2 linked regions of the Homo sapiens genome follow. The protein of the gene in region 2 interacts with the protein of the main gene of each other region in a pairwise test. Each region holds a gene or a part of one and is shown on either strand. Other genes may lie near its edges.

Evidence for each region.
Region 1: the proteins of FAM177A1 (region 2) and PBX3 interact in a two-hybrid assay, tested with the Homo sapiens proteins (one large-scale study listed by BioGRID).

What each region holds. Positions count from the first base shown.
Region 1 is NC_000009.12:125,928,873-125,932,527, reverse strand, and holds part of PBX3 (pre-B-cell leukemia transcription factor 3), read right to left. Parts: intron 2,874-3,655; coding exon 2,683-2,873; intron 1-2,682. UniProt on the Homo sapiens protein: Transcriptional activator that binds the sequence 5'-ATCAATCAA-3'.
Region 2 is NC_000014.9:35,044,685-35,048,439, forward strand, and holds the start of FAM177A1 (protein FAM177A1 isoform 1 precursor), read left to right. Parts: upstream 1-1,587; 5' UTR 1,588-1,779; coding exon 1,780-1,944; intron 1,945-3,755.

The DNA of each region.
Region 1 (3,655 bases), on a different chromosome or scaffold from region 2:
GCCAGTCAATAAATTATTTTTGGTAGCCTCTAACATGTAAGTCATTTGCTAGAATTGTGGGGAATGCAAATGTGTAAGTCTTGGCTGTTGCTTTCAATGACACTGTGGCTTACTAAGGGAGAGAAGAAATGTTCATGAAAAACTACAAGAAAAAGGAGCCTACATGACTTTCAGTCTGAATAGTTGCGTAAACATAGTATAAGTGTTCAAGGGAAGGAAGGGCTAGTCCAGCAGGGTGATTAAGGTGGATTTTCTGAAAAGCGAGCATTTAGACCAGATCCGGAACGATGAGCAAGATCTCACTAGATCCAACAAGTACAAGCACTGGTTCCATTCCGGGCTCCATTCCAGATACCCTCACAGATGATGACTCATTACTGGTAACCAGCTTAGAGAGACAGTTTGTTGTGGGAGCCAGGGAAGTAAGTGGTTAGACTTAGGAAAAGAAGGAATTCTAAGCAGTAGAAACATAATTCCATGAAGCATTTCATTTTGGAAGAAACACAGGAAAGAACAATTTAGTGATATATAAATAAGAACACTGAAAATGTTCAAACTCAGATCTAATAATTCCATTTCTAAGAATTGATCCTTAGGAAATAATCCTAAAGACCAAAAAGGTTCAATCAATGAAGATTTTCATTAAAATGTTAGTTTAAATAAAAATCTATCTAAAATAGTACCCTCTCCATTTTCTCTCCCCTTGACTTGCTTTATTTTTCTGCATACCACTTATCACCCTATTACATTTAATTACATTATTAAATAGAATGTTATGGTATATTTGTTCACCTGTTTACTGTCTGTTTCCTCAAGTAGAATATAAGCTCAATTGGGGCAAGTATATTAATCTGTCTTGTTTACCAATATATCCTCAGTACCAATAAATATTTGTGGAAGGAAGGAAGAAAGGAAGAAATTATATGAAAATTAATAGTTGGCTGGGCATGGTGGCTCCTGCCTATAATCCCAGCACTTTGGGAGGCAGGATAGCTTGAGTTCAGGAGTTCAAGACCAGGCTGGGCAACATGGTGAAACACCATCTCTACAAAAAATACAAAAATTATCCGAGCATGGTGGCAAATGCCTCCCAGCTACTCGGGAGGCAGAAGCAGGAAGATCACTCGAGCATGGGATGTCGAGGCTGCAGTGAGCCATGATAGCATCATTTACTGCACTCCAGCCTGGGTGGAGTGCATAGGGAATGCATAAGGGAATGCTAAGGACATTATTTATTTTATATCCATTTGGTAACTTCAATTGTTAAAATGCTATTAATAATTAGAGCTTATACTACATGAAAATGTTCATGTATTCATGGTAAATTTTTTAAAAAGCAGACCAAATTATGCATATTGACCCATCACAGAAATATTTCTTTTAAAAAGCCCCCAAACAAACAAAAAGAGAGAGAATATTGTAAAACATTTATAGTGATTTTTTCTTTAGGTAATAAAAATGAGGTTAACTTTTATCCTTCATCCTTTTATTCCATATATTTTCCAAACTTTCCATAGTGAGCTTGGCATTTTTAAAATAGAAAAAAGAATAATAAAATCTTCACAACAACAAAGAAGTAATGCAGACAGGAACAGGCCTTAAATGTCAGGTTAAGGAGTGTATATGTGAAGTATGCATGTATCGAGCATTGGAAAGCTACTGTGGTTTTCAAGCAAAGCAATCATGGTAGCACGGTGATGTTATAGAAACAGACAAGGGATATGGAGGATGGGCTGGAGGGCAGTAGGACTGGAGACAGGGAGACTAGTAGGTACTGTGCTAGCCCATGTACAAAAGGATGGGCAGGAACTGAGATGAAAATAAAGAGCTAAAATGAAAAACACTGAAAATGCTCCACACACTTTGTTTTCCAGTTGAGAAGCTATCTTAGTTATTTCCTTTAATACTGTGAGATTTGGATGATAATTATCACCTCTGTCAGATTCCATGGGAGAAGAAAGAAAAACAAAATAGAAACTTCTTTCCAAAGCTGCAGATTCATCATAAGCTTTAGCAATGCCCCGAGAGGCATCCCTACAGGGGCAGCGTACACTATGACGTTGACAATTCTTCTGTTCTGTCACTCAGTAGGTCACTGTAGACAATTTATTACCATATACAATATATTACCTAACTCCTGTGAAACTTGGGGAAAGCTTCAGATAAAGGGAAATTTTCATCCTTACAGGAAAAATGGTAGGCTTTCTTTCTTGATTTGGAAATACAGATTCTGGAGTTTTGTGGTAACTGCTATTAACTGAAATGCCACTTCCTTCTTAGGAGTATCAGTATCTCCAAGTATTTTCCCATATTATGCACAACCCGTGTAACATTAAGAAATTCTTACAAAATACCCCTTGTTAAAACAGTTATATGCAGAAAACTATCCTTAAAAATACCTTTTAGCATCAGAATGGAAAGGCTACATATTCCTAAAGTCATTAGCAGAGACACTAATCCTATTCATTTCCTGAGTCACTAAACTGGCAGCTAACCCACATTACCATTCCCAGACAGGAAAGCTTGACAGCACAGGAACCATGAGTTGAATTACCTGTCCATTGTACAAAAGACTCATATGGCCAAAAGAATCTAAGACCAACTGGTCAGTTTTACAGAAAATAATACACAAGGAGTGACAGACGGGGGAAAGCCATGCAATAGATTTATGGCTTCACATACCTGGCATCAAGGAACCTTGATCTTAAAATCATAACTGCTTCACAAGTGCTTTGTTTGAGCTGCATCTGAATGGAACTAAATTTTCGATGGATGATGCCCACCATTCTTTCAATCTCTTTTGGAGAAATGGGACGTGTTCTACTCTGTTCTCGGAGAAGGTTCATCACATGTGTAGTAAATTCATTACATGCCTGTAATGGGAAAAAAAAATCACTCCTTTGGAAACTATCTACTATCACACGAAGACATTCACTCATCTGAATTTACACCTCATTTGCATTCACCAATAGCATTATACAGTGTGTAGGGTAAAATGAAAACTAAGACACTTGTAAAATGGTAGTAATAGTAGTTAAGGCAGCAAGAATTCTGAAACCGTGCATGGTCAGACGTGCAAGGAGACAGCATTCAACTACTCTTCCCACCCACCCCTGTCCAGTTCCAAAATGATGTTTTCCCATTCGAGGATGCTCCCTATCAATTCCCATATACAAGTAAAAATATATGTTAATTGTTAATACTAAGTACCACCTATTTTCTCTGGAGTTTTACATTTAATCAACAAATGCTTACTGAACAACTACAAAGTTCAAACTCTTGCCAGTGCTATAAGGAACACAGAAATGAGCAAGATGCAGGCCTGGCCTTTGGTGAGAAAAAATGTATAAAAAACTAATTCAGTGCAAAGACTAACAGGAAGATATTAAGTTCCAAGGAAGGAATATTTTCATCTGTAGGCTTCACGGATTGAGCTTTAAACAATAGGTAGCATCTTTGAAAGGTGGATAAAGATGGAAGTCAGGAGGAATTCCAGGTACTAGAAATAACAGTATGTTGCAAGTTCAGAGAATGGCAAATAGGAATACAGATAATATGTAAAGAAGCAAAAGGATTCAGGTTTGAATTAGCACATAAAGGGCCTTGCGTGCCAAGCATTCCAATGACCTATTATAATTTAGCTGTAGTGCAGGCC
Region 2 (3,755 bases):
GATACTAGCCTGGCCAACATGGTGAAACCCCGTCTCTACTAACAATACAAAAATTAGCCGGGCGTGGTAGTGCACAACTGTAATCCCAGCTACTTGGCAGGCTGAGGTGGGGGAATCGCTTGAACCCGGGAGGCGGATGTTGCAGTGCGCCAAGATTGCGCCATTGCACTCCAGCGTGGGTGAGACCCCATCTCAAAAAAAAAAAAAAAGAAAAAAAAGAAAAAGAAAATTGTAATTTGATATTTAATTGCCACTTTGGAAAATAAAATCATGCATTTATAAATATCCCACAAAGTTTTAGTAATAAAGATTGTTGATTGCCCTGCTTGCCAGTAAGAAGGAAGAGATTTTGAATACATATAATGCAGAACTGTGTTGTTTATGAATGCCAATTCATGAAGTCTTAACAATTGGTTCTTTATTTTTGTTTTCAATTTATGGCCGAGTTTGGTTTTGCTGTTTTGGACTGTCTCAACTCCCTGCTGATGCCACCATACAGAGTCAGATCAGGTACTAACTTGTTTACTTCAGCAGCAACCTAACTTGATTTTATTACCAGGATAGAGAGCAATATGGATTTCCAACTAGTTTTTAAGGCGTAGATGGTTTTCAAATGATTATTTGTTTTTTAAAGTTTTTGGTTTTGTTTTTAGGTTCCAGTTATACATAGAATAGGAAGTGTACAATAACATTAGGCAGAGGGTAAGGAGAAGAACTTTGGCACAGAAGAGAAAGGAATATTTAATATTTGGGCCTGCTGTTGCTATGATGAAAAACATTTACAAGGTCATACAACTTTAGGGAGCATTTCTGAATTGAGACTAGTATGAAAATGGAATTTAAAGTATCAAATGAAGCCTCCCATAGCCAAAATAATGTATGTTTTGGTTTTGCCCCCTACATATTTGTGAAAACTTTCATGCTAAAACAACAATATACCATTTACCTGCAGAACCTCAGACTTGTTTGATGTTGAAGTCATGCAGTAATTGCATGATTTTTTACTTTCGTTGAACATTGCGAAAGACGGAAAAAATCTGGGACGCCCCCTCTAACATACGCACACGACTTTAAGACACAGATAAAACATTCCTTACATTTGTCAAGATGGAAGCTTACTACTGCCCTTTGCTCTCCTTCAGGTCTTTTCACTTAACACTTTCTACAGTTATACTTAAGTATTTCAGACAAGAGTAAGCAAATATCACGCCTGGGGTTCTTCTTTCGAGGGTATTTTGGCTGGACTGTCACCCACGTTTGGAATGGAAAGTGCAGCACGAGCCGTACATTTTACATTTTTCAGCAACCACATCCCATCACTAGCCTTTGAAGTACAACGACACAGCTGTCTTCATTTTACAAGTGCAAAAACCGAGGTCCTGCGGGGTGACTGCCCCAGACGCCGCTGGTGACGGGCTGCGCCGAGGTCGAGACGCCAGGCTTCAGGTACACGTACCAGAAATGACGTCACAGGCGGTGCCAGGCGGGGATCCACGAGCTCTGGATGCTTGCTTGGCCGGAAGCGACGCCCCGCAAGGACCCGCCCCGCCCCGCCCCGCCCCGCGCGAGCCGGTAGTTGCGCCTCCCAGACTGCAGTTGGCCAGCTCTCGGGGTGCGGAGCCCGGCGGGCTAGGCGAGGCGCGGGCTGGCCCCGCCCCTCAGGCCGGCGAGTCCCCTTCTCAGAGACTTGGCTAGGCGCGGCGCGAGGCGGGCGCTGGGCGGGTGAGTCCCACTTCCCGACAGCCTGGCTCGGCCAGCGACTGGGCGGGGAGACCAAGGATGGAAGTGGGCTTACCGGCCATTACCCTCTTTCTCACCAGCGCCAGCAGCCCTGTGGTGGCGACGACGATGGACCAGGAGCCAGTGGGCGGTGTGGAACGAGGAGAAGCCGTCGCAGCCTCGGGAGCTGCGGCCGCCGCGGCATTCGGGGAATCTGCAGGGCAGGTAGGTGGGGCCGCCGAGGCTGACGTCCGGGGAGCCGAGCCGCCTCCTTGCCTTCTCCGCGGGCCGCTCTTTTAGCCTGCGCGGCCGTCCTCCGAGCAGGCCGCCCCAGCTTTGGAGTTCCTCCTCACTGCACCCCTGTTTCTGCTCACTGAGACCAGCTTGTGGGAAGGAGCGCCCCCCGCCTCACTCACCAACCCCTTGGCTGGCAGCACAGCAGACTCTGGGGCGGCCTCGGGTTCCTGGGGTGATAGTCCAGCTTCTGGTCTACCAGAGGAAGAAGAAAGGCGTGTCCCCCAAAGGCTGTCCTTGCAGTAGCTGGAAGCCAGGTGAGGGCGGCTTCAACCACTTCTCAGTCTCTTCTGGTGCGAGCGCCTGCCTGGGCATCTGCCCTTTGCTTGGCATATGCCAAACGTTTACCAGCTTTAATTCACTGGATCCTTACAGTAACCGCTCGAGGTGGGTGTTAGCCCCATTTCACCGCCGAGGCAACTAAGGCTCCGAGCTGCGCTGTCCAACATAAATAGAATGCAAGCTGCATTGAAAATTGTAATTTAAAATTTTCCAGTAGGCACGTTTTAAAAAAGTGAAACCGATATTAATTTTAATAGCATATCTTATTTAACCTAATTTATCAAAACAATTTCAACCTAAAATTACTATGAAAGTTATTAATGAAGTATTTGCATTCTCTTTTGGAGTCTTTTCTAAGTCTTTTAAATCCTGGGTGCATTTTACACGCATAGCATATCGCAGTTCTGGCTGACCACATTTCAAGTGCGCATTAGCCACATGTGGCTAGTGGTTACTGTATTGGACAGCGCTGGTTTAGAGAGTTAACGTTTCTTGCAACTTTTCAGTATTAGACAAAAAGACACTTTGGGAGGCCAAGGCGGGTGGATCACCTGAGGTCAGGAGTTCAAGACCAGTCTGGCCAACATGGTGAAACCCCTTCTCTACTAAAAATACAAAAATTAGCTGGGCGTGGTGGCGCTCGCCTGTAGTCCCAGCTACTCGGGAGGCTGAGGCAGGAGAATTGCTTGAACCCTGGAGGTGGAGGTTGCAGTGAGCCGAGATCACGCCACTGCACTCCAGGCTGGAGACAGAGCGAGACTCCGTCTCAAAACAGCAACAACAACAACAACAACAACAACAACAAAAAAAAAACCCTTGAGTTGCTCATGTATGTAACTCTTCCCATCCTCCATGAGAATGAAGCTTTTTCAGTAGCTTCATTTTTGAGACTAAGTACCTGAATGTTAGTAAGACATTTCCCCCAAACTGTGAGTATATCTCTGTGTATCTCTTATAGTATAAGATGTCGTTTGCATTAACAAAAGCTTATCCAGCCTGGGCAACAGAGCAAGAACCCATCTCTTAAATAAAAAACTAAAGAAACCCCAAAAACAAAAAACACAACTTTCCCACATACCAAACTCTATATGGAATACGTTTTTTCCCTCCTACTTAAGAAGGGGATTCAGGGGACAACATGAATTGATAAGGAAGCCACGTCATTTTCAGTTGAGTTGAGACCTATTGTTGGCAAGTGCACTTACACTTAACCTTTGAGTCCATGGTGCTTGATATGTTTTTCAATTTGATTTTTCCTGTTGTTACTAGAATTGTTTTTTTAAAATCACTACCTCCGCCCTGGATCTAATAGCAAAGTAAACACACGTGTACTTATATACCAGCTAAATGTTGTTTGAAGTGAGAGGCTCTTTGATTGGGGTTAGTGATATTCTGTTGTTTTCACATTCTTGGTTAACAAATAAGTACTTAACCAGTAAAGAAGGCTGTAGAACAAAAGA